3 linked regions of the Homo sapiens genome follow. The protein of the gene in region 3 interacts with the protein of the main gene of each other region in a pairwise test. Each region holds a gene or a part of one and is shown on either strand. Other genes may lie near its edges.

The links. Proteins that work in one complex are often made in the same cells at the same time.
Region 1: the proteins of CCDC125 (region 3) and SPMIP2 interact in binary tests that used the Homo sapiens proteins (3 or more experiments, as listed by UniProt).
Region 2: the proteins of CCDC125 (region 3) and FLYWCH1 interact in binary tests that used the Homo sapiens proteins (3 or more experiments, as listed by UniProt).

Annotation. Positions count from the first base shown.
Region 1 is NC_000004.12:159,025,205-159,032,229, forward strand, and holds part of SPMIP2 (protein SPMIP2), read right to left. Parts: intron 1,521-7,025; exon of another isoform or gene 859-1,520; intron 1-858.
Region 2 is NC_000016.10:2,935,931-2,942,955, reverse strand, and holds part of FLYWCH1 (FLYWCH-type zinc finger-containing protein 1), read right to left. Parts: exon of another isoform or gene 6,699-7,025; coding exon of another isoform or gene 6,531-6,698; intron 6,317-6,530; coding exon of another isoform or gene 5,836-6,316; coding exon 5,572-5,835; intron 4,773-5,571; coding exon 4,500-4,772; intron 4,494-4,499; exon of another isoform or gene 2,976-4,493; intron 2,925-2,975; coding exon 2,864-2,924; coding exon of another isoform or gene 2,860-2,863; exon of another isoform or gene 2,795-2,859; intron 1-2,794. UniProt on the Homo sapiens protein: Transcription cofactor. Negatively regulates transcription activation by catenin beta-1 CTNNB1, perhaps acting by competing with TCF4 for CTNNB1 binding. May play a role in DNA-damage response signaling.
Region 3 is NC_000005.10:69,301,794-69,308,818, forward strand, and holds part of CCDC125 (coiled-coil domain-containing protein 125), read right to left. Parts: intron 6,236-7,025; coding exon 6,158-6,235; intron 5,110-6,157; coding exon 5,024-5,109; intron 2,137-5,023; coding exon 2,054-2,136; intron 1-2,053. UniProt on the Homo sapiens protein: May be involved in the regulation of cell migration.

The DNA.
Region 1 (7,025 bases), on a different chromosome or scaffold from region 3:
CACAGGCTGGAGTGCAGTGGCATGATCTTGGCTCACTGCAACCTCTATCCCCTGGGTTCAAGCAATTCTCCTGCTTCAGCCTTCCAAGTAGCTGGGATTACAGACGTGAACCACCACACCTGGCTAATTTTTATATTTTTAGCAGAGACGAGGTTTCACCATGTTAGCCAGGCTGGTCTCGAGCTACTGAGCTCAAGTGATCCCCCCACCTCGGCCTCCCAAACTGCTGGGATTACAGGAGTGAGCCAGCACACCCACCCCAAAATCTGCATTTTAACAAGCCTCTCCAGGAGAATAATTTCCACATTAAAGTTTTAAAACCATTTGCTTAAATAATCTTAGATTATTTCTTCCTGTATTTTAAAAACCTGCTTATGGCTTCAGACTTTGGGAAATAAGGTGTACTTGGTTGGCTTATTAAGAAAAAAAAAGAATTTTAAGATGGTTTTGTGTCCTTTCCCCAGCACCAATCTCCCCCAGATAATCAACTTCTCAAGAGAAAAAAACAGTTTAAAAAAATTATTAAATTCATATTATTTACAGGTGCTTTCATTTCATTAAACCATGATAGAAAACCTTATAAAAACCTTATATCCCCCAAATTACAGATTTTTTAAAAACTGAGTTCAAAAGAGTTAAGGGGAAAGCCGACATTGGTGTCTAAGTTTACAGTTTTTGCTTCTTGAAGCAGGATCTTCATGCTTACACCTATTTCCTAGTAGGTAGCACAGGGCCTGGCACACAGTAAACAATCAACTCATCTTGCATTTAATAATTTTTTCACATCCTGTTTCAACAACAGAAACTTCTTTTTGCTTAATCAAGAGCATTTCATCCTGATTTAAAGAAGTGATATTCACAGTGCGCTGCCCATGCCGACCTTGCTAAGCTTGCTCCACACACCCTCCTATGCCCACCATGACCACTGTTCAGCAGATGGAAGATGATGCCTAGTGGACAGCAAAGGCCTTGATGAATACGTGAAGGAACTAGGAGTGGGAATAGCTTTGTGAAAAATGGGCACAATGGCCAAGCCAGAGTGTATCATCATTTGTGATGACAAAAACCTCACCATAAAAACTCAGAGCACTTAGAAAACAGCACAGTTTTCTCGTACCCTGGGAGAGAAGTTTGAAGAAACTACAGCTCATAGCAAAAAAACTCAGACTCTCTACAACTTTACAGATGGATCATTGGTTCAGCATCAGGAGTGGGATGGGAAGAAAAGCACAATAACAAGAAAATTGAAAGATGGGAAATTCATGGTAGACTGTGTCATGAACAATGTCACCTGTTCTCAGATCTATAAAAAAGTAGAATAAAAATTTCATCATCACTTTGGACAGGAAATAGCTATGAAAATCAACAAGCTCAGTTCAATGGGCAAATCTCCATACTGCTTCTTTTTTTTCATTACTGTGTTCAATTATCTTTATCACAAACATTTTACATGCAGCTGTTTCAGTATCAGATTAATTAGGATCATCCCTTTGGTTAATAAATAAATGTGTTTGTGCTAAAAAATAAAAAATAAAAAAATTAAGAAGTGATATTAACATAACCTACAAAGGATCAACTTTGGAAAATTAAATAAAGCCATGGAAAGGCAAATAAATCCTCCTCCCTTCCATCTTAGCTTATGCAGTAATTATTTATATACATATATTTATATTTATATATTTATATTTATGCATATATAAAACAAAACCAAAAAACTTGAAGTTAAGACAAAGCTTTTCCTTAGAAGTCCTCTTCTAAGGGGTTGGTTCAGGTGCTTTTCAAAGGGATAGCAGCAACTGATTTTTTTTTTTCTGCAAATTACACTGTGTTGAGTTAGGTGACCAACAATTTAAGGTAGGATTGATTTGGAGTTGCTGTCACCTATAGATAAGGCTTTCATGTAACACTTATAGTTTTGTAAATGTAATAATATGTCTTATGAAAAGAACAGTGTTTGATGGAGGACAATGAATAAGGTCTCCCACTTTTGCTATTATGATAGCAACGCCTAATATCTAATGTCCTTATCAAATAAATCACTGCAACTGGATATAATTAAGCTAACTAGATGTTTGGCAATTTTGTTTTCAATAAATGGCCCATTATATTCTATCAGAAGATCATTTCCAACTATCTTAGCTTTTAATTTATTATTTTTGAGTAGACTGAAGAATCATGGTAAGGACATATGTATATTGTCTACAATATATCTTAAAGTAATAGAACAAATTTTGATTCAGGGCAAACTGCATGCTATGACAACAGAATAAAAGGCAGGTAAAAATAAAAATAGACAAATAAAATGCAGTTTAGTCAACCCAATGTTTCAGTACCATTAAAATGTGTAAGCTTTTGTCATGAATTAGTTTTTAAAAATCTAAAAGAGTTGTCTTGTGGATTATAGTGCTGGGACTTAAACTGCATTTGCAGTAGGACTATTTTATTATTTCTTCAAACAGGAAACCACTGGCAATTCAGTGTGAAGTCATTTTCTATTTTTAAAATAATTGAATCTGAGACATAACTATTAGTATGACAGTTTCACAGAGCAAAAAATAAGATGAATAAGTGGGTCTGAAATGCTGGCTAATGGAGCAATACATTTCAAAATTACATATACATTTATGTGCTTCTCCGACCACTTACAGTTTCATTCATCATATCGTTTTTTGGCCATTTCCTAGAGAGTATTTCCAATTCTAATGTATTTCTAACAGAAATTTCATGCTGTGATCACTCCTTTGTAAGGTAGAGTTCTGTAATATTTCTGGTTTACATGAGCAGACTTTCTAGTAGGTATATGATGGCTGACTAAATATATTAATACTTTTATTTAGTCAGTAATCTGGATGTAAGGCACATAAATACCCCATATAAACAGGGAGCAGGCAGAAGCTTCCATCCTTCTTACAAGGCTGTGTGGCCTTCAGCAAGTCACTTAACTTACCTGAACCCTGAGTATTCCCATCTGAAAAAATAGGTTAAATTAGATTATCTGTTATAGTGCCTTTTTAATTTTATGTCTTATATTAACTATTTCTTAACTATATTTAATTTGAGCCAAGTAGGAATTAATGAAGAAAAATCTGAATTAAAGAATGTATTTTTAAAGAAATGTAATTTTTAAGTATTTTTTTTTCCTTCGAGATAGGGCCTTGCTCTGTTGGCCAGGCTGGAGTGCAGTAGTGTGATCACAGCTCACTGCAGCCTCGACCTCCCAGGCCCAAGCTATCCTCTGGCTTAGCCTTCTAAGTAGCTAGGATCACAGGTGTGCACCACCACACTCGGCTGATTTTTAGAATTTTTTGTAGAGATGAACTCTCTCTGTGTTGCCCAGGCTGGTCTCAAACTCCTGGGCTCAAGCAATCCTCCCACCTCTTCCTTCCAAAATGCTAGGATTATAGGTGTGTGCCACCGCATTCAGCCCAAGTTTTAAACTTTAAAATTGCATAGGACCTGGAACTGGGTAAACAAATTAATGTCATTTGTATGTAAACAGATGTTTTAAAAATATATAACCATGCTCTAAAGTAGTTTTAAATTTTCTTCCTAATTTTGTTTATAAGGTTTTTATAGTAAAATCTTTGTAATACAAAAATAACATTTTCTAGGCAGGTGCGGTGGCTCACACCTGTAACCCAGCACTTTGGGAGGTGAAGGCTGGTGGATCACTTGAGCTCAGGAGTTCGAGACCAGCCTGGCCAACATGGCAAAACCCCATCTCTACTAAAAATACAAAAATAAGCTGGGCGTGGTGGCGCACACCTGAAATCTCAGCTACTCGAGAGGCTAAGGCAGGAGAATCGCTTGAATCCAGGAGGCAGAGACTGCAGTGAGCTGAGATCGTGCCACTGCACTCCAGCCTGGGCAACAGAGCAAGACTCTGTCTCAAAAAAACAAACAAACATTATTTATAAAATCTCCTCACTATGTCATTACAGAACTTAGCAAATTGGTAGTAAAACTTCTGTGGAAGAATAGCCAGCAGATAAATGTTTTAAAAGTACAGATGGTTAGCTTGCCCTATTAGATTAAAACTCACAGTTATCGAAAACATGAATTATAGAAATCAGAACAGCATCTGATTGTGGGAGGATTGACTGGGAAAGGACATACAGGAACTTTTTAGAGTGATAAAAATATTCAGTATCTTAATCTAAAAGTGCATACATAAAGGTGCTCACTTTGTAAAATGTTATCAAGCTAAAGACAAATTAATGTACTTAATAGAGTATGTTATATATCAACTTTTTAAAAAGGTTTTAAAAGTTGGATCCACCGATAGTTTTTTCAAAAAGAATTTCAATTCCTTTATTAATTGAAAGCTAAATAAATTCCAAGATCCATCTGCAATGTAGGAAGTAACTTATGCTCTAACTATGATACTCAAAAAGAAGAGAAATGAGTGGGAAAACAAAACAAAACATATGGCTGAGTTTTGTGTAGTGTTATGTGAGGTAATTTCCTGTTATTTCTCAGGGTTTTTGGAATTGGATTTGTGTTTCCTTTGGATGCCACACTATGCTGTGATGGATATTCAGACTGAGCAAATCAACCCTATTATGTTCTGGTTATCCAATAGATTATAAGCTTCTAGAAAAGAGAACATTTTTTTCATGTATATTTTTGTATCCTCCAATGCTAATGGACAAGTTTTTAGTACTTAATTGGCACTCAATTTGTTAAATTGGATTTCAAATATGTAGGATAAAAAATTAGCATCAAAAATGTATTTTAAAAGGAAATATATCAAAATTTGATAGAAAAATAAGACTTGATGAGTGATCACATTAGTTAAGTGGTCGAGTATACCAGCTAGATATATACTGTGAATCATCACATAGAATAATGAAGCATCAGTGGAAATTTTTTAAAATGAAAATTAAAATAACTGTAGTTATAAATGACAAATAAAAGAATAGTGTTGGCTGGGTGCGGTGGCTCATGCCTGCAATCCCAGCACTTTGGGAGGCCGAAGTGGGCAGATCTCTTGAGCCCAGGAGTTCAAGACCAGCCTGGGCAATATGGTGAAACCTCATCTCTACAAAAATACAAAAATTAACCAGGAGTGATGGTACACACCTATAGTCCCAGCCACTTGGGAGGCTGAGGTGGGAGGATCACCTGAGCCCAGGGAGGTCAAGGCTGCAGTAAGCCATAATCGTGCCACTGCACTCTAGCCTGGGTGACAGAGTGAGACCCTCCCTCAAAAGAAAAAAAAAAGAGTAGTGTTATGCCTATGCCAAGAGAAAGCAAAATTTTATTTATTTATTTATTTATTTATTTATTTATTTATTTATTTATTTATTTGAGACAGAGTATCACTCTGTTGCCCAGGCTGGAGTGCCATGGTGCAATCTTGGCTCACTGCAACCTCTGCCTTCTGAGTTCAAGCAATTCTCATGCCTCAGCCTCTTGAGTAGCTGGGATTACACGGGTATGCCACCACTCCCAGCTAATTTTTGTATTTTTAGTAGAGATGGGGCTTCACCATGTTGGTCAGGCTGGTCTCAAACCCCTGACCTTAAGTGATCCACCTGCCTCGGCCTCCCAGGTGCTGGGATCACAGGGTGTGAGCCACCACGTCCAGCCAAAATTTCACTTTAAAATTAAATTAGAAATCAATAAAAATCCTATGAAACTCTTAAAAGTGCTCTAAAGTAACTCTCAGAATTGCTGCGAAATTCCTCAGTATTTTCTCATCCTCTACATGGTTTTTTTTACATTATTGACATCCAAAATAATTTCTAAATGATTTCTCATGATATTTTGTTGTCATATTAATTATTAATAGTGACAAGATATTTTTCTTGTTTTTATCACAATTACACAATATTTGCATGGATTAAATCAATCTTTTGTTTGCCTAGCCTGGGTACTTCACTTAAACTAATGTTTTTATGAAAACACGGACTTTATATTAAAAACAGTTCCAAACATGGAGGAAAGAGCTCCAAGCTCCAATAGGTTAGAAAGGTGGTAAGTGATGGGCCTTATAGGAGTTAAAATTATTATTCTTGAACAGCTCAAAAGTTTGATTTCTGTGAACTGACTGCAGTACCATCTAAGACATAAGCATCCCTAAAGAGTTGAACTTGGCTATAATCAAGCCTCTAGAGCCAAATTCAGTTTACAGAGAATAAAGGAACAAGTTAAATGATATGAGAAGGAAGTAATTGACAAATTCGGAACGTTGGACATTTCTGCTGCATAACTGATCCAGTTTCTGCAACAAGTAAATGGCAGGGAAAAAAGAAGGGAAGACTGCACCAGTTTAAAATAGACAAAAAGAGAAAACACAACTGAATGCAATGTGTGTTGGATCCTTATTCTCAAAATCAACTGTAAAAATACATTTTAGAGACAATCAGGAAAATTTTGTTATGGAGTTGTTAATTACATGATGCCAAATGATAGTTATTAATTTTGTTAGGTGCAGTCACGGCAATGTGACTATGTAAGAATATGTTCATATTTTTTCAGATGCACAATAAAATATGTAAGTGAAATAATATGATATCTGGGCTTAAAATATTTTTACAAGAAAAATACGAGAGATGTGAGTCAAATGTGGCAAAATTTTGATAAATGTTGAATATGGGTGACAGGTAAGTGGGAGTTCATTGGCGTGTGTTTTAAAATAGTCACAATAAAATTTGTAAAAGGCAAAAGCAAAAAAGGATTCATATCTACTTCTTTGAAGTAATAAAAATGATTTTAAAAAATATTGATGGGGGCCGGTTGTGGTGGCTCATGCCTGTAATCCCAGCACTTTGGGAGGCTGAGGCGGGCAGATCACCGGAGGTCAGGAGTTTGAGACCAGCCTGGCCAACATGGTGAAACCCCATCTCTACTAAAAATACAAAAAATTAGTGGGCATGGTGGCTCACGTCTGTAATTCCAGCTACTTAGGAGGCTGAGGCACGAGAATCACTTGAACCCTGGAGGGAGAGACTGCAGTGAGCTGAGATCATACCACTGCACTCCAGCCTGAGCAACAGAGGGAGACTGTCTCAAAAAAAAAA
Region 2 (7,025 bases), on a different chromosome or scaffold from region 3:
CCGAGGCGGGTGGATCACTTGAGGTCGGGAGTTCGTGACCAGCCTAGCCAACATAGCGAAACCCCGTCTCCACTAAAAATACAAAAATTAGCTGAGCGTGGTGGTGCGCACTTCTAATCCCAGCTACCTGGGATCACTCACAGTGATCTTGCAGTGAGCCAAGATCACACCACTGCACTCCAGCCTGGGCGACAGAGTGAGACTCCGTCTCAAAAAAAAAAAAAAAAAAAAAAAAGTTCCCAGATGCCAGCCAAGGGTGAACCTTGCACACAGGCTGTTCTTAGGGCAGCAGTCTCAGGCCTGCTGTGTTACATTAATTGGTTTTGCATGTTGATGCATTCCTGGGATAAATCTTACTTGGTCATGGTATATAATCCTTTTTTATGTTGCTGGATTCTGTTTGCTGGTATTCTACGTTCCTAAGAAATACTGGTCTGTAGTTTTCTCTTTGTGATTCCTTTGCTTGGTTTTGATATCAGGGTGATACTGGTCTTAGAGAATGAGCTGGGGCCAAGCATTGCGGCTCATGCTTGTAATGCCAGCACTTTGGGAGGCCAAGGCAGGTGGACTGATTGAGCCCAGGAGTTGGAGACCAGCCTGGACAACATGGGAAAACCCCGTTTCTACTAAAAATAGAAAAATTAGCCAGGCGTGGTGGTGCGTGCATGTAGTCCCAGCTACTCAGGAGGGTGAGGTTCAAGTGAGCTGAGATGGCACCACTGCACTCCAGCCTGGGTGTCAGAATGAGACTCTGCCAGAATGAGGTCCATAGTAAGGTCTCATCTTTATTCCTGATTTTAGTATTTTCAGTATTCTTGCTTTTCAATTTTTTTGATCTGTAGATAGAGCTAAATATTTGTCAATTTTATTGATCCTTATACAGAACCAACTTTTGGTTTCATTTATTATTTATTTCCTTCCTTCTGCTTCAGTTTTTTTTTTTTTTTTTTTTTTTTTTTTGAGATGAGTCTTGCTCTGTCGCCCAGGCTGGAGTGCAGTGGCGCAATCTCGACTCACTGCAACCTCCACCTCCTGGGTTCAAGCAATTCTCCTGCTACAGGCTCCCACCACCACGCCTGGCTAATTTTTCTATCTTTAGTAGAGATGGGGTTTCACCATGTTGGTCAGGCTGGTCTTGAACCCGTGGTCTCGTGATCTACCTCCCTCGGTCTCCCAGTGTGCTGGGATTACAGGTGTGAGCCACCACGCCCAGACTTTTAGTTCTTTTTTTTTTAGTTTTTCTATTTTTTGTGGAGATGAGGTCTTGCCCATGCTAGTATGGAACTCCTGGGCTCAAGCGATCCTCCCACCCTAGCCACCCAAAATGCTAGGATTACAGGTGTGAGCCACCATGCTTGGCCCTGTTTATTCATTTAGAGATGGGATCTTGCTCTGTCTCCCAGGCTGGAGTGCAGTGGTACAATCATGCTTCACTGCAGCCTCAATCTCCCAGGTTCAAGCGATACTACCAGCACATGCTACCATGACTGGCTGAGTTTTTGGCAGAGACGAGGTCTCACCATGTTGCCCAGGCTTCTTCCTTTTTAATAGAAGTGTTTTTAGCTATAGATTTCCCTCTAAGCACGGCTTTCAGTGCATCCCATAAGTTTTATTTCAAAGTATTTTATAATTATCTTCTTTGGCTCATTGTTTTGTTTGTTTTAAATTACACACAGGGTCATGCTCTGTTGCCCCAACTGGTTTCAAACTCCTGGGCTCAAGTGATCCTCCTGCCTCTGCCTCCCAGAGTGTTGAGATTACAGGCGTGAGCCACCATGCCCAGTCTGACTCACTGGTTTCTTATAAGTGTGTTCTTTAATTTCTACGTATTTCTGAGTTTCCCAAATTTCTCTGTTTTTGATTTGGTTTTTGTTTGTCACCTAGGCTGGAGTGCAGTGGCACAATCTTGGCTCACTGCAACCTCTGCCTCCCGAATAGCTTGGATTACATGCATGTACCACCATGCCTGACTAATTTTTGTATTTTTAGTAGAGATGGGGTTTCACCATGTTGGCCAGGCTGGTCTCGAACTCCTGACCTCAAATGATCTGCCTGCCTTGGCCTCCCAAAGTGCTGGAATTACAAATGATCTGCCTGCCTTGGCCTCCCAAAGTGCTGGAATTACAGGTATGAGCCACTGTATCCAGCCGTGAAAGGACTGAAATGATACAAAGTATGTTCTTTGACCATAGTGGGATGTAATTACAAACCAATAACAAGGCTGGGCACAGTGGCTCTTGCCTGTAATCCCAGCACTCGGGAGACCCGAGACAGGAGGATCATTTGAGGTCAGAAGTTTGAGACTCAGCCTGGCCACCATGATAAAACCCTATCTCTACTGCAAATACAAAAATCAGCTCGGTGTGGTGGTACATGCCTGTAATCCCAGCTACTCAGGGGGCTGAGACAGGAGAATTGCTTGAACCCGGAAGGTAGAGTTTGCAGTGAGCTGAGATCATGCCGCTGTACTCCAGCCTGGGCCACACACAGACTCCATCTCAAAAAATAAAATAATGGACTCTTGCTTTATGGCCTGGCTGTGGTTGAGAAGAACCTGAATTCTGCTGCTGGCAGCTTCCCTCTTGTTCTCTCTCTGTCCCATGGCTGTCATGTGAAGGATGCTCAAGTGGGCCCAAGGAGGGGTCCCTATGGTGAGGAGCAGGGCCTCCAGCCTCACTTGGGCCTTCAGATGACTGCCACCCTGGCTGACAAATTCTCTTCAACCTCAGGAGTCAGAACCACCCAGCCCAACCACTCCCATAATGTTGACCCACAAAAGCTGAGACAGCAAATATTTGTTGTTTTAAGCCCACTACGTTTTGTTGTAATTGGTCATGCACCATTAGATAACAAATACAATTACCCATAAATCTGCTGGCTTTCAGGAGAACACGTCTTGAAGCACAGCTGAACTTGAATCTTTTCTGTGGAAAAATAATTGAAAATATGAATTAATAATTCTTCTCTTGTTGAAGCTGACAGAACCAAGGACACACACCTTGTTAACGACGCCCTCAAGGCTGTGAGGAGAAAGACAACCGGGTGAAGCAACGCTGGGAATTCAACGCATCAATTACCTTCCCAGGTAACAGCAGCTACTTGAGCTCCTAAGAGTTGACCTTCAGCTGCTGTCATGGAAAATAGTGGGGGTCAACTAGACATCAAAGATGAAAGGCCAGGCCTCCAGCACAACTTTCTCTGTAAGCTCGATAGTGGCTTTCTCAAAGAAATCCTTTTCTCAAAAAAATTTCTTGTAAAGACAGGGTCTTGTTCTGTCACCCAGGCTGGACTGCAGTGCATGGCTCACTGCAGCCTCAACCTCCCGGGCTAGAGTGATCCTCCCCTTTTCTGAGGAGCTCAGACCACAAGCGTGCACCACTGTGCCCAGCTGATTTATAAACTTTTTTTTTAGAGACAGGGTTTCACCATGTTGGCCAGGCTGTTTTCTTTCAAGGTTTCACCATGTTGGCCAGGCTGTTTTCTTTTCTTCTCTTTTTTTGAGATGGAGTTTCACTCTTGTTGCCCAGGCTGGAGGGCAGTGGCGCGATCTTGGCTCACTGCAACCTCCGCCTCCCAGGTTCAAGTGATTCTCCTGCCTCCCAAGCAGCTGGGATTACAGCGTAGCTGGGATTACAGGCATGCGTCACCATGTCCAGCTAATTTTGTATTTTTAGTAGAGACGGGGTTTCTCCATGTTGATCAGGATGGTCTCGAACTCCTGACCTCAGGTGATCCGCCTGCCTCAGCCTCCCAAAGTGCTGGGATTACAGGCGTGAGCCACTGTGCCTGGCCAACTTGGATTTGTTACTGTTATACAGGACATGGCCCTTAATATTCACATGAATGACAGTGAGACACACAATGCTTTCTAAAGATTGGTTTTGGCCGGGTGTGGTGGTGCACACCTGTAATCCCAGTTACTCGGGAGGCTGAGGCAGGAGAATCACTTGAACCCAGGAGGCAGAGGTTGCAGTGAGCCAAGATGGCTCCATTGCACTCCAGCCTGGGCAACAAGAGCAAAACTCTGACTCAAGAAAAAAAAAAGGTTGGGCACAGTGACTCACGCCTGTAATCCTAGCACTTTGGGAGGCCAAGACAGGCGGATCACGAGGTCAGAAGATCAAGACCATCCTGGCTAACATGGTGAAACCCCGTCTCTACTAAAAATACAAAAAATTAGCTGGGCTTGGTGGCAGGCACCTGTAGTCCCAGCTACTCGGGAGGCTGAGGCAGGAGAATGGTGTGAACCCGGGAGGCGGAGCTTGCAGTGAGCCGAGATCGCGCCAGTGCACTCCAGCCTGGGCAACAGAGCAAGACTCAGTCTCAAAAAAAAAAAAAAAAAAAAAAACAAAGACTGGTTTCACATTCTGTTTATATGAATAATTTGTGTGTGCACAAAAGCAGTCTGCTCAGTGGGTGCCTGGCCTGGGGCATCAGTTCTGAGCTGGAAGAGATGAGGATGCCCACAGCCCTGCCTCTGCCCCACAGCCTGCCTGTACCTGGGTCCTCCTGCTGGGCCGTGGTGGGGAGCCGCTCCCGTTGCCTCAAGGCCTCCAGGCCTGCCAGGTCAGGCTGATGGCAGTGGCTGCGCATGACCATGATGCGGTGGCCCTGGGTTATGGCGCGGCTGCGGCAGCCCAGCCGAGCCTGGTCCCGGCACATCCAGTACACCTTCTCCCCAGCCGCCTTCTCCTTCCTGTAGAGGAAGGACTCGTGCACCAGGAACCTGCCCCCCAGGGAAGTCCTCAGGAACTCCAGGGGCCGGAGAGGATCTGAAAGGGAAAGTGACACTGTGAGTGGGGCCACAGGGGCCTGGGTGGCAGGGCTGGGGGTCTGATTTGTATCCCCCAGCCAGGCCCCACCAGGAATCTGCGATCCCCTAGCACGCTGCACGGTGGTCCCTGCCCTCCTCCCCTCTGGGCCCTGCAGCCCAGACTCCCACGCTGGCTGGCCCTTTCCAAGGGCTCTGGGGATGACTGGGCACGTGGCCTGGCAAGCACTGGACCCTGAATGCTCCTGAAGGACTCTCCCAACCCCTCAGACCTCATGCTTGCAGGTGCATCCCCCAGGGCAGGGGCTGAGCCTTTCTGGGCTGGGCACCAGGGCCTCCTGGCTCCCTGTCCACCTACCCCTCAGCCAGCTGGCAGCTGACTTTTAACAAGCTGAACTAAAAGGTCACATGATGTTGGGGTGGCCAGAGAGAACCCCGTGAGACTAGAAGCAGTGTGGGTGGCGTGGGGGTAGACCAAGAGTGTCCAGGATCCACCGTACGGCCCGTCAGCAGATGCCAAGCACTCTCTGTGGCTGCCAATGCCACCCCTGGCCACCATCCTCTTCCTCTAGAGAGCTGAGTGGGTTTCTACCTCCGACAGCCAGTCCCCACTACCCAGAGGACCAGCTGCAGGAGCTCGGAGCCCGCAGATGGAGCCTCCTGCCCCTGGGGAGTTTATGGCCCCGGCTGTCAGACCACCATGCACAACACACAACACCCCACGGGCAGCCTCCAGCCAGCGTGTGGGGCACAGGTCCTGGGAGACCAGGCAGACCCAGCCCAGCACCCTCCACACGCACCTGGGCTGTCCCACTGCGCCAGGTTGGGGAAGTGCTCCCGCTGCCGCAGGGCCTCCAGGCCGCCCAGGTCCGGTGGGTGGCAGTGCCTGCGCATGACCATGACCCGCCGGCCCTGGGTGATGGCGCGGCTGCGGCAGCCCATGCGGGCCTGGTCCCGGCAGGTCCAATACACCTTCTCCCCGGCCGCCTTCTCCCGCCGGTAGAGGAAGGACTCGTACACCAGGAAGCTGCCCCCCAGGGGCGTCTTCAGGAACTCGGGGCCTCCTGTTGAGAAATGGGAGGGGAGGAGCAGCGGACACCAGCTCTCAGAGCCCAGATCAGCATGGCCCCGAGATGAGACCTCCCACAACGCCCACACCTCCTCCTCACAGTGAGGTGGCCCCGGAGCCCAGGACACAGATGCCACCATCCCCCCAACTCTGCTGGGGCTCCAGCTGCTGGGGTCCGCCTCCTGAGGCTGGGGACTGGTCAGGTGAGGCCCCTGCAGGTGGCGGCCAAGCGTCCCACCTTGCCATGCCTTCAGGGAGGCAGTGTCTGCTGCGTCACTCGTCCGTCCCCAGCACCCGCCCAGGCTTGCATGCAGGGTGCGCCGTGCCTGGTTGGTCAGAGGAATGACCCGGGGCCCTCTGGGGACAAAGCTGCTCAGGAGCCGGATGGGGCTGAGAGGGGTGGCCCCCGAGAGCCGCGCAGGTAGAGGTGTGACCCCAGGACTCTGAGGAAGAGGCAGGGAGCAGCGTCCACTGTCCTGGATGTGGTGAGAGGGAGGACCTGGCGGGTGGCTGTGCCTTGCCCAGAGGATACCCTTTCCTCCGTGCAGGCTCAGGGGCCACAGAGGTGGGGAGGTGGCCTGGGGCATCGTGGACACATCGGGTGGCAGTGGAAGCAGGGGATGGGGGTGGGTAGCAAGCCCTAGAGGAGAGGCCAGCGGGGGGCGGGAGGGTGTCTGGCTGTGGAACTACCTTCAAGAGGGATGGAGAGGGCTGGGCAGGGGCCATGTGGAGCAGGGAGGCTCGGGAGGCAGGAGGACCCTGAGGGGCACAGCAGCACAGGAGCCTGGGGACCACGAGACAGAAGAGGTCAGGACGAAGGTGGGGACGCCAGGCCACGGGAGGGGGTGGTGTGACCATGGGGCACGCTTTATCCCCTTCCACACGGATGAAAATATCCAGCAAGGGGCTGCGCACGGTGGCTCACGCCTGTAATCCCAGCACTTTGGGAGGCCGAGGCAGGCGGATCACGAGGTCAGGAGTTCAAGACCAGCCTGGCCAACATGGTGAAACCCCATCTCTACTAAAAAAATACAAAAAATTAGCTGGGCGTGGTGGTGTGCACCTGTAATCCCAGCTACTCAGAAGGCTGAGACAGGAAAATCACTTGAACCTGGGAGACAGAGGTTGCAGTGAGCCAAGACCACGCCACTACACTCCAGCCTGGGCGACAAGAGTGAAACTGTC
Region 3 (7,025 bases):
AGTGGAGGCAGGAGAATCACTTGAACCTGGGAGGCAGAGGTCACAGTGAGCCAAGATTGTGCCACTGCACTCCAGCCTGGGCGACAGAGTGAGATTCTGTCTCAAAATAATAATAATAATAATAATAATATATTTTTTAATTAGCTGGACATGGTGGAACATGCCTGTAGTACCAACAACTTGGGAGGCTGAGGTGGGAGGATCTCTTGAGCCCAGAAAGTGGAGGTTGCAGTGAACTGAGATTGTGTCACTGCACTCCAAACTGGGCAACAGAGCAAGACCCTGTGTGAAAATAAATAAATAAATAAACAAATAAATAAATAAAATATGTAAAAAGTTAACATCAGTTTGGACATGGTGATTCACACCTGTAATCCCAGCACTTTGGGAGGCCAAGGTGGGTGGATCATTTGAGGTCAGGAGTTTGAGACCAGCCTGGTCAACATGGTGAAACCCTGCCTCTACTAAAAATACAAAAATTAGCCAGGTGTGGTGGCAGGCACCTGTAGTCCCAGCTTCTTGGGAGGCTGAGGCAGGAGGATCACCTGAACTGGGAGGTGGAGGTTGCAGTAAGCCAAGATGGCGTCACAGCACTCCAGCCTGGGCAACAGAGTGAGACTCCATCTCAAAAAAAAAAAAAAAAAAAAAAAGGCCAGTCGCGGTGGCTCACACCTGTAATCCCAGCACTTTGGGAGGCTGAGGCGGGCGGATCACGAGGTCAGGAGATTGAGACCATCCTGGCCAACATGGTGAAACCCCTGTCTCTACTAAAAATACAAAAATTAGCTGGGTGTGGTGGCATGCACCTGTAGTCCCAGCTACTCAGGAGGCTGAGGCAGAAGAATTGCTTAAACCCAGGAGGCGGAGGTTGCAGTGAGCTAAGATTGCACCACTGCACTCCAGCCTGGCGATAAAGTGAGACTCTGTCTCAAAAAAAAAAAAAGTTAACATTAAATATCTTATTATCCTTGCATCAACTTTCATCGTAAGGTAGACCATTATATAAGAGATATATAACATATAAATTATATACACACATATATATCATTTCTACTTAGGTTCTTCAAATATCAGGTGCTCTACCATTTTGCTTTAAGTGAAAACTAAATAAAAAGGAGAAAATGGGGAGAAATTGCTTAATAGGTAGGAGATTTTACTTTGGAGTACTGGAACTGTCTGGAACTAGACAGAGGTGGTGGTTAGGCAACTTTGTGAATGCCACTGAATTGTTAACTTATTTTTTCGAGACCGAGTTTCGCTCTGTCACCCAAGCTGCAGTGCAGTGGCACAATCATGGCTCACTGCAGCCTCAACCTCCTGGGCTCCAGCAATCCTCCCACTTCAACCTCCCAAGTAGCTGGGACTACAGGCCAGTGCCACCACATCTGGCTAATTTTGGTTTTTCTGTTGTTGTTGTTGTTTGTTTGTTTGTTTCTAATAGAAACAAGGTTTTGCTATGTTGCCCAGGCTGGTCTCAAACTCCTAAGCTCAAGTGATCCTCCTGCCTTGGCCTCCCAAAGTTCTGGGATTACAGGCATGAGTCACTGTGCCTGGCAAGAATTGTTCACTTTTTTTTTTTTTTTTTTTTTGAGATGGAGTCTCACTCTGTTGTCCAGGCTGGAGTGCAGAGGCACAATCTTGGGTCACTGCAACCTCGGCCTCCAGAGTAAAAGCGATTCACCTGCCTCAGCCTCCTGAGTAGCTGGGACTACAGGTGCGCACCACCATGTCTCGCTAATTTTTGTATTTTTGGTAGAAATGGAGTTTCATTATGTTGGCCAGGCTGGTCTTGAACTCCTGACCTCAGATGATCTGCCCACCTTGGCCTCCCAAAGTGCTGGGATTACAAGAATGAGCTACTGTGCCCAGCCAGGAATTGTTCACTTTTAAATAGTTTTATGTTATGTGAATTTCACCTTGATAAATTTTCTTAAATTTAAAAAACCTAAATGATACATTTCTCCCCTCTATTATACTTAATGTATATTATTTCAAAATACTAGCATGTTATCTTTATTGATACATGTGCTCTTAATACAAAAATCATCATTACCTGCATTGTCAGACTTCAGCATTTTAATTTCTTCTGTTTTCACTTTCAAATTCTCTTTGAGGACTGCATTTTCACAGTTTAGCCTGGAAAAAAGTGGCTTTCAAATAACTAAAACATTAATATTTCCTTGCTGAGCGAGAATATTTTTATTGCCATAATTGGAACACAAAAATCTAAATATAGTTTTTCCTACTTCAAAATAGTCTGGAATTTACACGTATCACAAAAATAAAAACAATTTAAAGGAATGTGGTAAGAATTTTTTTTTTTTTTTTTGAAATGGAGTCTCACTCTGTCGCCCAGGCTGAAGTGCAGTGGCACAATCTCAGCTCACTGCAACCTCCACCTCTTGGGTTCAAGTGATTCTCCTGCCTCAGCCTTCCAAGTAGCTGGGATTACAGGTGTCTGCCACCACACTTGGCTAATTTTTGTATTTTTAGTAGAAACGGGATTTCACCATGTTGGCCAGGCTGGTCTCGAACTCCTGACCTCAAGTGATCAGCCCGCCTCAGCCTCCCAAAGTGCTGGGATTACAGTTGTGAGCCATCATGCCCGGCCAGGATTTTAAACATACCCTTTTTTTTTTTTTTTCTTTTTGAGACGGAGTCTTGCTCTGTTACCTAGGCTGGAGTGCAGTCATGTGATCTCGACTCAGTGCAACCTCCGCCTCCCAGGTTCAAGTGATTCTCCTGCCTCAGCCTCCTGAGTAGCTAGGATTACAGGCGCCCGCCACCACGCCCGGCCAATTTTTGTGTTTTAGTAGAGAAGTGGTTTCATCATGTTGGCTGGGCTGATCTCAAACTCCTGACTTCAAGTGATCTGCCCACCTCGGCCTCCCAAAGTGCTGGGATTACAGGCGTGAGCCACTGCGCCTGGACTAAACATACTCTTAACCCTTCTTAGCTGAGACATAATCAGAACCAGAAATATTTTTAAACCATCCATTTTGCATACTCATTCTCTTTACTTAATAACCATTTGAATTTCAACTATATGCTTAGGTCACCTTCAGAAACTTACATACACAGGTCCTCATGTAAACTATGGACTTCGGGTAATAATGATGTATCAACATTGGTTATAAAAAATGTACCACTCTGGTGGGGGATGTTGTCAGTGGGGGAGGCTGTGTATATGGGAAATCTCCGTACCTTCTGATCAATTTTGTTGTGAATCTACAACTGCTCTAAAAAAAAAAAAACCAACAAAGTATTTCATGGAAAAAAAAGATACATAGGGTACACCCATGTTCATAGCAGCATCATGCAAAATAGCCAAAAGGTAGAGTTAACTCAAGTGTCCATCAGGAATGAATGGATAAACAAAATGGCGTACATACATAACATGGAATATTATTCAGTCTTTCTGGTTTTTTTTTCTTTTTGGATACAAGGTCTCGCTCTGTCATCAAAGCTAGAGTACAGTGGCCCAGTCTCAGGTCCCTGTAGCCTCTACCTCCTGGGTTCAAGCGATTCTCCTGCCTCAGTCTCCTGAGTAGCTGGGATACAGGTGTGTGCCACCACGCCCAGTTAATTTTTGTATTTTTGGTAGAGACAGGGTTTCGCCACATTAGCCAGGTTGGTCTAGAACTCCTGGCCTCAAGTGATCCACCTGCCTCAGCCTCCCAAAATGCTGGGATTATGTAGAGAGCCGAAAGCCAGAGGATCGTGACCAACTTAGCATTCCACTGAGGCTATATGATCAAACAGCAAACTGTTTATCATGAATGCAGGATGTAGGCAAACTCACATCTGCACCTGCCGCCAGAAGGTTTGCTGAGGGCAGTCACTCTCTGGCGCCGTGCTCCTTGAGGTTATCTACTGGAACATCTGGAGACTACTGTTCAGAGAATGCAGTTGTGCAAGCCTGCACCGAGTCAAGCAGCTGACTGACAACCACCTCCTCCCTATCTCCTTTACTCAATAAATACGAAGGGTGCTAAAAGCTCAGGACCCTTGTTCACTGGAGCAAGGAGCCCCCTGACCCCTTCTTCCAAATATACTCTTTTGTCTTTATTTTTATTCCCACGTTCGTCTCCCTTTGTTCAGTCCAACAGGGATTGGGGCCACGATAGGATTGTGTGAGCCACCATACCCAACTGAAATGACTGACTTTATAGTAAGTGTATAATTTAAAGTTATTAAATAAACTCACACAAATAAAAGTTGTTCCAAAGATATTTTTTCTCTTTTTGGAGCTGATTGTCAGAACATAAACATTTACCATCTTAACCATCTTATTTTTCATCTTTTTTTTTTTTAACAAGATGAGGATCTTGCTATGTCATCTAGGCTGGTTTTGAACTCCTGAACCAAAGCAGTCCTCCCACCTCAGGCTCCCAAAGTGCTGAAATTACAGGTGTGAGCCATCATGCCCAGCCCCTCAAAAGATTTTGTTTGAAAAAAACAAATAGTTCCAATTCTAAAATAATTCTTACACTGTATTTTAAGATAGAGTTTATACTATTTTGGTTTTTGTTTTTTTGTTTTGTTTTATTTTTGAGACACGGACTCACTCTATCATCCAGGCTGAAGTGCAGTGGCGCAATCATGGCTCACTGCAGCCTCCAACTCCCAGGCCCAAGTGATCTTCACACCTCAGCTTCCCATGTAGCTGGGGCTACAGGTGCAAGCCACCACACCCAGTTACTTTTTGTATTTTTGTAGAGATAGGGTTTCAACATGTTGCCCAGGCTGGTCTCAAATTCCTGGACTCAAGTGATCCTCAGATCCAAGTGCCAAAGATTCCCAAAAGTGCTGGGATTAAAGGTGTGAGACACCACACCCAGCCTATGCTATTTTTTTTCTTTAAGGAAAATTAACACTAACAAAAATATGCGACTAGTAAGTGGATAAGCAATAAAAATTTTGTAATATTTTGCACTTGGCTCAAAGAAGAAAGCATAAATTACTTTTGAATTACATAGATTTTAAAGGTTGTCAAAGAAAAATAATGGAGTAATATACAAACCTGTCATATTTTTGGATCCAAGATTCCTCTATATTTTTAAATCTATTATGATCAAATTCTATTTCCCACTGCAAGGCATTTATTTCCTATGGAAAGAAAATAGTACCTTCATGGCAAATTACTACAAATAAATCATTTCAGGACATTGTGAATAGCTGAAATAAATCATATAATCAGTTCTCAGAAATGGTTTAAAGAGAAAAAATTAATTATTGCTCTAAAAGTATCTCTGACATTTGCAAACACATATAACATGCCTCTTTAGCATTCAAAACAACTCTGCCAAAACTCACTTAATATAGAAAAAATTTCAAATTGTTTGCCTTCAAAATTTGCTGGGCTGCTACACCTAGATTTCTCAGTGCCCACCTCCGCTGCATGTAGAGACCTCAAGCAAAATCCACTCCTGGAAATCTTAACTCAATGGTCCCATCAAGGGAGAACACACCAAGCACAGGAGACATGACCATCTAGGATGATTCCTAACTACCTTTATAGTGAAGATGAGATGGTCAGAAAGACGTACGTCCTGCCAGGCAACGATAAGGATTTAAAAAAAAAAATTTTTTTTAAGAAGAAAAATGGGCTGGGCACGGTGTCTCACGCCTGTAATCCCAGCACTTTGGGAGGCCAAGGTGGGTGGATTACAAGGTCAGGAGATCGAGACCATTCTGGTTAACATGGTGAAATCCTGTCTCTACTAAAAATACAAAAAATTGGCTGGGCGTGGTGGCGGGCACCTGTAATCCCAGCTACTTGGGAGCCTGAGGCAGGAGAATGGCGTGAACCCGGGAGGCAGAGCTCGCAGTGAGTAGAGATCGCGCCACTGCACTCCAGCCTGGGCGACAGAGCAGGACTCCATCTCAAAAAAAAAAAAAAAGAAGAAGAAATGAGAAGTACCAATTTGGCAGGCCTCCTACTACCTTAACATGGGGAAATAAAAATAACCTGAATTCATTGTGCACATGACAATCTGTTTTAGATTGTAAACTCCAAAAGGGAAGACCATCAGAACTGAAGCACACCTAGCAGAAGGTAGGCACAAGTGACAGATCCATTAGTATGGTGAGTTTAGGGAAATTATATTTAACAGCTTATTGGATTCAATAAGTCTACACTAAAAGCACCAAATACCTTCTCCAAGGATCTGTTTTGTTCCATAGTTTTTTGAAGCACTGCCTGCGTATGACTTGTGGCTTTGCCCAGTATTGCCTAAGAAAAATAAAACTAGCATCAGTATAAATTAAATTTGTAATCACTCCTATGTACATCATGAAGTTCTCTTTTATTTTAAGGCAATGGAAAATTAAGATGAATTGACATAAGAATTTCACAGTGACCACCTTTTATGGAGAGTCTGATAGTTCAAAAGTCAGGAGATCTTGGTTTGGCTCTTTTCCAATGAATGTGGGAATTAATGGATGAATTTTCCACACAAAGAAAGTGTTCAGAACAGTACTATTCATCAGTCAAAAAGTGGAAACCATCTGATACGGTTTGGCTCTGTGTCCCCACCCAAATCTCATTTTGAATTGTACTCTCATAATTACCACATGTTGTGAGAGGACCCGGTGGGAGATAATCTGAATCATGGGGGTGGTTTTCCCCATACTGTTCTCATGGTAGTGAATAAGTCTCAAGAGATCTGTTGATTTTATCAGGGGTTCTGCTTTTGCATCTCTCTCATTTTCTCTTGCTGCTGCCATGTTATAAGTGCCTTTCGCCTCCCACCATGATTCTGAGACCTCCCCAGCCATGTGGAACTGTAAGTCCAATTAAACCTCTTTTTCTTCCCAGTCTTGGGTATGTCTTTATCAGGAGCATAAAAATGGACTAATACAGTAATTTGGTACCAGTAGAGTGGGGCATTGCTGAAAAGATACCCAAAAATGTGGAAGCTACTTTGAAACTGGGTAACAGGCAGAGATTGGGACAGTTTGGAGGGCTCAGAAGAAGACAGGAAAATGTGGGAAAGATTGGAACTTTCTAGAGACTTGTTGAG